Homo sapiens: one gene and its partner. The protein of the gene in region 2 purifies or fractionates together with the protein of the main gene of each other region. This does not show direct contact. Each region holds a gene or a part of one and is shown on either strand. Other genes may lie near its edges. The genes, in order: PRDM7 and SPIN2A.

The links.
Region 1: the proteins of SPIN2A (region 2) and PRDM7 purify together in Homo sapiens (affinity purification with mass spectrometry; one large-scale study listed by BioGRID and IntAct). This does not show direct contact.

Annotation. Positions count from the first base shown.
Region 1 is NC_000016.10:90,056,058-90,060,637, forward strand, and holds the end of PRDM7 (histone-lysine N-methyltransferase PRDM7), read right to left. Parts: intron 4,567-4,580; coding exon 4,284-4,566; intron 2,478-4,283; coding exon 2,232-2,477; 3' UTR 509-2,231; downstream 1-508. UniProt on the Homo sapiens protein: Histone methyltransferase that selectively methylates 'Lys-4' of dimethylated histone H3 (H3K4me2) to produce trimethylated 'Lys-4' histone H3 (H3K4me3). May play a role in epigenetic regulation of gene expression by defining an active chromatin state.
Region 2 is NC_000023.11:57,134,851-57,138,912, forward strand, and holds SPIN2A (spindlin-2A), read right to left. Parts: upstream 2,548-4,062; 5' UTR 2,410-2,547; exon of another isoform or gene 2,355-2,409; intron 2,292-2,354; exon of another isoform or gene 2,198-2,291; intron 2,027-2,197; exon of another isoform or gene 1,753-2,026; 5' UTR 1,748-1,752; coding exon 971-1,747; 3' UTR 800-970; downstream 1-799. UniProt on the Homo sapiens protein: May be involved in the regulation of cell cycle progression. Exhibits H3K4me3-binding activity.

The DNA of each region.
Region 1 (4,580 bases), on a different chromosome or scaffold from region 2:
TTTTACTTCTCAGATTATGTTTTAGTAGAAGAAAAGAGCTAAGTGAGCCTGGTGCGGTGGCTCACACCTGTAATCCCAGCACTTTGGGAGGCTGAGATGGGTGAATCACGAGGTCAGGCATTCGAGACCAGCCTGGCCAACATGGTGAAATGCCATCTCTACTGAAAATACAAAAAATTAGCAGGGTGTGGTGGTGGGTGACTGTAATCCCAGCTACTCTGGAGGCTGAGGCAGGAGAATCACTGAATGTAGGAGACGGAGGTTGCAGTGACCTGAGATCACACCACTGCACTCCAGCCTGGGGAACAGAGTGAGACTCTGTCTCAGAAAAAAAAAAAGAAAAGGAAAGAGAGCTAAGTGTAGCTGTGGCAGGCCAGGTCTCACTAACACCAGCCTCCATTACAACTGTCTCAGCACTGACTGAGTAGTTAGGTTAAATATTAAAAGCTAATTGAACCAGTGCTCTTGTAGCAGGATGAGCCGCAGACGAAACCCCTCAGACACAGAGTTAAAGAAGGAAGCGGTTTATTCGGCCAGGAGCATCAGCAAGACTGCTGTCTCAAGAGCCGAGCTCCCCGAGTGAGCAATTCCTGTCCCTTTTAAGGGCTCACAACTCTAAGGGGGTCCACGTGAGAGGGTCGTGATCGATTGAGCAAGCAGGGGGTAGGTGACAGGGGCTGCATGCACCGATGGTCAGAGTGGAACAGAACAGACCGGGAAGTTTCACAATGTCTTTCTATAATCTATAGATAACATCAGTTGCTAGGTCAGGGGTCGAATTTTAACTACCAGGCTTAGGTCAGGCCGGCCCAGGCCTGGTTTCGGGTCTGGTTCCTTGGTTTCAGGTCTGGTTCCTAGGCGCCAGGCTACCTGCCTTTAGTTTTGCTTCTTTTTCCTTTTCTGAGTATAAAACAATATAAAACAGTATGAGAGGGTCTGTCTCTCTTCTCTCAGAGTATTCAATTTCCTTAGGATTTTGAGCGTTATTCCTAATACACCCTTGAAACCCCCACACTCACACAGATACGTACACAGAGGGCACATACCCCCACACCCATGCATGCAGGCTTAACACACATAGCACACGTGAACACATATATACACACATGCGTGTTCCTGTCTGGCGTTCACTTCTGGGGCTACAGAGATTGGAGGAAATCAGGAGAGGAGACAGGGGGAGCCAAGGGGGAGTATGGCAGCAGAGGAGAGGGGTCCATTAGAAGAGGTCACACTTCCCAGGAGACCAGGGAGCTCTCTTTCCTGCTGCGACTCTGTAAAACCCTACATTTCTCTTCCTGGACTTGGGAATCGATTCTCCAATAATTAAACCAGATGGACTCCAAGTTTATGTCTTTCTGGGGTTGAATTCCTGTGGAGACTTGAACTGAACGTTTGAGTTCTCTGTGGCCCTTCTGGACTCTTCCTTCCTTCAGTGATAAGGGAAGAATGAGGTACACACTTGGGGTTCAGATATGTATGGAGACAAAATTAATTAGAACAGGAGGCAAAACACAAAAAATGGAGGGGATCAGTGCGGGAAACAACCACACATGTTGACGTCCCCCGAACACTTACAGAACTATCCCCTGTTCTTCCTCAACTCTAGTCATGAAAGTGGCGGATTTGTTTAATTAGTTATTTCCGATCTCTTTACACTCTCGGGGAATGTAAGGGGTTAGCAGACTTTCGCTGAAGCCACCTCAGAGCTGGGGTGTGCAAGTGTGTGGTGATCACGTTTGTCTTCTTGTGGCTATTGAGATAAGGTTTTATTACTAATGACTTACTCATCCTTCCTGCAGACTGGGGCGTCTCCCCTGTGTGTCCTCTGGTGAATGAGGAGGACTGACTTCCGGCTAAAGCCCCGCTCACACTCTCTGCAGACATAAGGCTTCTCCCCTGTGTGTGTCCTCTGGTGACTGAGGAGGTCTGACTTCCGGCTAAAGCCCTCCCACACTCTCTGCAGACGTAGGGCTTCCCCCCTGTGTGTGTCCTTTGGTGTGTAATAACATCTGACTTATCACTGAAACCTTGCCCACACTCTCCATATTTGACTTTCGCAATTCTTGAGATTCCTACCCCCACAAATAATTTGCCTGTGTTCCCTGGATTCACTTTCTGGCCTGTTCTGGACTCTTCTTCCATCATTCTTTCTCCCACTCTAGAGCTCCCCATTTGTCCTTTGGGTGGGCTAGAAAAGGCCCTTGAAATCTCCCTCTGCCATGTCCTTTTATTCAAGAGTTTGGACCTTTCTTTGATCTCTTGACCTTTGGTTTTGTCATTACAGCAGCGTGGATCAGAATATTGCCGCTCCTGATTCTGATCCCCTGGGCAGGGATTCTCTGGTTGGAGAAGTTTTCTTGCAGATGGTCCTGGGAAGTTCTGAGAGGAGTGATTGCGTTCCACATGTTGACTGAGAAATTTTTGACTTGAAAAGGCCAGACAGCATGAGGGACATGGATGGATCTCTGGCTTTGGTTCTGAAAGAGGAAGTTTTTGGTCAGGGTAGATGTTTTGTTCAGGCCTTACTACATATGAAGGTATGAAGATCAAATGAAGAACCAGTCATTCTTCATATGTTAACAATGCAAGCTCTCTCCCACCAAGTGCTGGATGGACCTTTACAGTCCATTTTTCCATTCCACTTTTATTCACTACATCTTAAAAAATCCAGAAATCCCACATCTTGGGCCTTTTCTACGTATCAGCCAGACTCTGGGTAACCTCAAGCAGCATCAGGGGCAGCATCATTCCTTACATAGATGGAACTGCAGTGACCTTTCCCCCATGCCACAGGTATCTTCCAAGTCCTGTAAAGCCTTCCCTGATCACCTCTGCCACATGCTCCCTCCCTGGGCCCTGGGCACTTTTGCGACGCGAGGTTTTCAGCTATTTTATTCTATTGAGAAATAACACTCTTGATGACTTAGGTGAGATTGTCCTTAGTGACTTCCTAAGAGGGGAAAAGGATCTATTAGGAGCACTCAGCCTGGAGATCCACAAATGTGGTTAAAGAGATGTGTTAGCAAATCTGAATTTGAGTATCCTCATTCAAAAGGACATATTTAATTGAGGACTGTTATGTGCCCGGTTCTCCATCAGGAAGTGTGATTCAGGTTGGCCAACACAGAGTGGTCCAGGTCCCACTGACTAAAGGACTGTGGGTCCTGCTGCGCCAACTAGGTGCATGGACTGCTTCTGTTTCAGATTCCACAAATCATAAAATGAGAATATGCTCTTTGTCAGGCTGCACATCAAGTATTCATGTCTGAGTTATTTCATTCAGTCTGAACCCATTTTAAATATAATAGGAAGTCTTGTTTCAAAATATATCCCTACTCAGGCTTACCGCCATGCTCCCCACCTTCATCCTGCCCACCATTTTCTCTCACTTGGAAACTGGAGCAGCTCTGAAGGGATGACCCATGGCAGCCTATTTTCCAAAAATGAACCAAAGCTGAACTCTTTCTGGCCTCAGGACCATTGCACTAGCTGCGCCCTGTGCCTGGAATCCTTGGCCCACAGGCACTTGCACTTCTCAAATGCTGTCTCCTAAGAGAAATCTTCCCTGACAATCCCCTGCAACACTCTACTGTCACCTCACACTGACCCCCAGGTCTCACACTGACCTCAGGTCTCACACTGACCCCCAGGTCTCACACTGACCTCAGCTCTCACACCGATCCCAGGTCTCACACTGATCCCAGGTATTCTTTCTGGATTCATTTTCTTCAAAGCACTAATCGCCGTCTGATATTACACATATGTCTGTGTGTATTCGTACGGTTCCCTAATTCACAAGTTATCTGTTCAAGAGCAGTTTTTTTGATTGTCTTCATCAGTCTGTATTTACACTTCCTGCAACATCGTCTGGCACAGAGTAGGAACTCACATGACAGCTAATTGAGATAATGAATGAATGAATAACAACATATGCGTATCATTAAGAAATATCAAGGAAATGCCAGAAGAAACTACCTTGTTGGGAGAGCTGGTAGGTGTTTGAGAACTTGATTTTTGTCTTTAAGTCTTTGAGCACTGTATGCTGTTATATACTTTGTGCATGAAGTACTTTGAATATAAAATCGGAACAAAGATTTAAAAATATAAAAACTGTTCCAAAGAGGCAAAGGCATATAACATGAATCTTTAATTTTGGAAGCCACTGATGTAAAATTTTACTGACTTTAGACGGCGTTTTACTCTACTTAAGAGTTCAATCATGAAAATTCTCTAGGATAATTCTTTCTTTCCTGTCCTTTTAAAAGAGTAATAGTGATGCCTACCTCTCCCTGCCATGAGCTCTTTCTTCCACTTGCTGCCCCACTTGATGCCCAGTTCCTGGCCATACTCATCCCCATACCAGACCAGCAGTTCACAGCCTGGCCTAATGACTCGGCAGGTTCTATAGAAGATCTGATGCCCAGTTCCTGGCCATACTCATCCCCAGACCAGACCAGCAGTTCACAGCCTGGCCTAATGACTCGGCAGGTTCTATAGAAGATCTGCCTGTGGTACTGGAAGGCCACCAGGTTCTGCTCTTCATCATCCCGGGCACAGTTCACATACCTGGGGTCAAGGCA
Region 2 (4,062 bases):
ACTCCCTGAAACAGGAAAAGCCTTATGGGCATAAACTTGGCTCCTGATTAACTTGACTGAGTCATTCCTGTCAACATGCTCTTCTAGTGAACCTCCAATGCATCTGGCATCTTTGACAGTTGCCACTTCCTTTGTGCATAGAGCCAGGAAGAGCAATGTGGACACTACCAGAAGTCCAACATTTTCCTGGGCCTTCCGATCTCTCATGGGCCCCATACCCCACAACTCTTTTCCTGTATTCTCACTCCCTCTGTCAGTCTTTCTTCTTTGAATTCCTCCTTCCTCAGTGGCCCTCTTCTAATCCCTCCAACACCCTAACCCACATAGCCTCTTCCTTTGTGTATCCTTTAGCCTCTCCCAGATCCCTGTCAGGTTGATCCTTCTCCACCTTACTCTGGACCCTCTTCTAAGCTTCTTTGTGTTCCTCTCTACTCAGTTTATTCTATTTTCCTCTAAGCCCCAAGATCTCACTCTCCCTCTGTTAGTCTTCCTTCTGAGTTGGATGTTTCCTTCTCATAGGTCATCCCCTCCCCCAAGGAGCCCCTCCCTTTCTGGCCCTTTTCCACCTCTTCCTAAGCAGTCACCTCCTCCTCTCTCCCCAAGACAGCCAATCTCTTGTTCCTTCCCCTGCCCCCTCCAGACCAGACCAGCTAAATCCAGTGCCATTTTTAAATGACTGATTATGATTCTAGCTGAACTTTATTCACAGCCGAAATTGACAGCTGTTCGTTCCTTCCATGCCCCATCTACCAAACACACCCGAACTTTTCAACAAGACAAAGGGCTTACAGACAGCATGTCATGTATTCACAAATTTGTATTTTTTAGAGCAAAACAACAGTTAATGCTGGCAAAGATGTTTAGTTATCAGGGATTCCATAAGCTTTCAGTACACTGAAAGGCAACATTTTTTGCATGTCTACAAATTATACATTTGTTTCCACACATGTGCCAAATTTTACCCTAACAGTTAGGACTTTTTCACCAAATCGTAGACATAGATATGGAAATCATCATCAAACTTGATGAAATACACAGAGGGTTTGGTTTCCACTTGGTGAATGACCATGCCGATCCTTTTGGAGCCATCTTCTTTGGTATATTCCACATGCTTACCTATTAGGCCATCTACAACTCCTCCTGGCTCCCTCTCTGTTGGAGGAGACTCACTGGATTCTGGCATGATGCGGAGGTCACCTTCCTTATAATCATCTAGAAGCTGGTACATGTACAAGACAGGATCTTTCTCATAGGTAATATAAAACCAGGCTTTCATGATAGGTGCTTGAGCTAAGACCATCCCCCTCCATTCATCCTTAGAACCATGCTCTCCCTCAAACATGTGTTCCACTGCTTTGCCAATTATGGTATTTGCAAGGTTGGCATCACTAATGTGAGATGATGCCACCCTGTCAGAAAGAATTTTAAGAGACAAAACCCTTTCATCTCTGTGAAGTTCCAGTCCATAGACACAGTCAATTCCATCATATTTCACCAGATAAAGAGAGGGATTTATAGGCACCTGATCCAGAACGGTTCCTTTCCACTGCGTGATGGGCTCATCTCCTTCCTTCCATCCATGAGAAATTCTGCAGCCCACGATGTTCCTGCGGGGCTGGGATGAAGGTCGGCCTCTCTGCTTCTTTTGGGAGACTTTTTTCTTTGTCATGTTTGCAGACCCAGTGGCCCGTCCTGCAGCTGCCCTGGTTTGTTGCCCTTCGGCTTCCTGTGCGTTGGGGGTCTTCATGCCTGCTGGGGGAGGAGAGAGGATAGAGAGACACACCCAGTGTGCCACAAGGCAAACTTTTCCCTATAGCCATGTCTGGATGTAGTCTGCGCTAGTGCCTAAGTTTCCCCTAGGAGCCTGGAAGCAATGCTGGAAATCCTGGCTGCATGCCCGCAGTGCTCTCCCTCTTAAGTTCCTTTGGGCTGTGGGGAAGGGCTGGGGTGGTGCAGTAGAGCTGTCTGGGGTTAGGAACTCTGCAGAAGTGGCTGGGCCACCTCCTCCTAGCTCAGAGCCCACTGCCCTCCCTTTACCCTTTACTGCCACTAGCATCCACTCCCAATCCCCTGCAAAGCGGCCTTGACCAGCACCCACTACCCTCCTGCCCTGAGTGCCTCTGGTGCTGTCTGTAACCCCCACTGCCTATCCTAACCACTTCCCTGTTACCTACCTCCCTTGCTTCCTGGCGCTCACCTTCAAATCCTTGTCTGGCTCCTATTCCTACCCCCTTTCCCTGTCGTCCACCGCACTCCCCCACCCCACCCTTGCCTGGCGCCCAACTCCACCCCATGTCTCCTGCTGGATTCCTTCCCATCCCCCTCTCCATTCTGGCGCCCACTAATGGCCTTGCCCTGCCTGGCGTCCACCGCCGGGGATCGCGGGCCTCACGTGCCGAAATCGGATACCTCGATGCTGCCTCTGCTGTGAGCCTGTGGCGAAGGAGGGTCAACAGGCGACTCGCTGAGTGACTGCTTGCAAGAGCGGGGAGGGTAGGATCCATAGATGAGGAGCGTGTGTAGGAGCGCGGCGAGACAGGCAAAGAGCACTGCAGCGGTGTCCCCAGCGCTTCGCTCGCTGGCCGTCTACCTCCCTGTTGGTGGCGGCCACCCCTCAGCCACGTTGGGCTGCCACCAGTCCCTGATGCAGTGGCTGTAGTCTCTGCCCTTTTTCTGCACAAGACTACAGTGTTAGTTTCCTCTTAGTAGTGATGTCTTCCATTCTAATCACAGAGCAGATCTGCCTTTCTTTTCTTGGGGCCCCTCCTGGGCTCCTCCTTCCCTTTCCACAATTCACAACAGTGGAACCTGTAGGTGGCCTTTTCTCTCTTCCTGTCTCTGCTGGCTGGATCCTTCAAGCTCTCTAGCCCCTCCCCTCAGCTCTCTTGCTCCATCTGTTTTCCATCTTTCAGACATTTCTCACATTCTTTGGAAACATACAAATTAACATAGAAATACCATGTGTATACATTTATGGAGACATGAATCCTTTACGACCATATGCAAATGTGTATGTATGTATATATATATATATCTCCAAGCACATGCACATGTATAAAACTATGAATTCTGTGTACAGTTCCAGAAATTCCTATCCATAGATTCTTAATTCCAAATACACACCTCTATCCAATCACATAACTCACAGATATAATTCTCTGTATATGCATACACACTCACGAATACATACATTAAGTGTTTCTCCAAAGCATTATGTAGGCATATTTTAGATTTGGAGACCTTGCTTTGAAGAAGTATTGGCTTATTTTAAGCTTAAAGAGTTATTTTTGAATGTGATTACAATACTTAACAAACCTTATCTATTTCGCATAAAGTGAAGTCATTTTTAATTTTTGTGTGTTTTTTTGTGAGTTACAGTTTTTCACAGTATCCTATAATTCTGAAAATAATCAACAATATTAGATTGCTATATCAAGTAAGATGTTTTCAGTTACATGTTGTAGGACAACAAACCAAATGGGTGTACAATAAAAACAATATGTTGGCTAACATCTGAAAAGTTAAATAAGTGTTAGGTTAATCTTAATCTATGGTGGAATAATATTTTATTATATATATATATATATCACATTTTTTATCCATTTATTTATTGATGGACAGTTAAGTTGATTCCATATCTTGTCTATTGTGATCAGTGCTGCAAATAAATATGTGAGTGCAGATAGCTCGTTGATATGCTGATTTCCTTTCTTTTGGATATATACCCAATAGTGAGATTGCTGGATCTTAGGGAATTTGTAGTTTTAGTTTTTGGAGGAACTACCACGCTGTTTTTCATAATGGCTATGCTAATTTATATCCCCACGAGCAATTTACAAGGATACCTCTTTCTTCACTTCCTTACCAGCAGTTTTTATTTTCTGTCTTTTTGATAATAGCCATTTTAACTGGGGTAAGATGATATCTCATTGCTATTTTGATATACAATTACCTGATGATTAGCGATTTAGAATACTTTTTATATATCTGTTGTCCATTTGTGCGTCTTAGTTTGAGAAATGTCTACTCAGCTCTTTTGCCCATTTTTAAATCAGATTATTT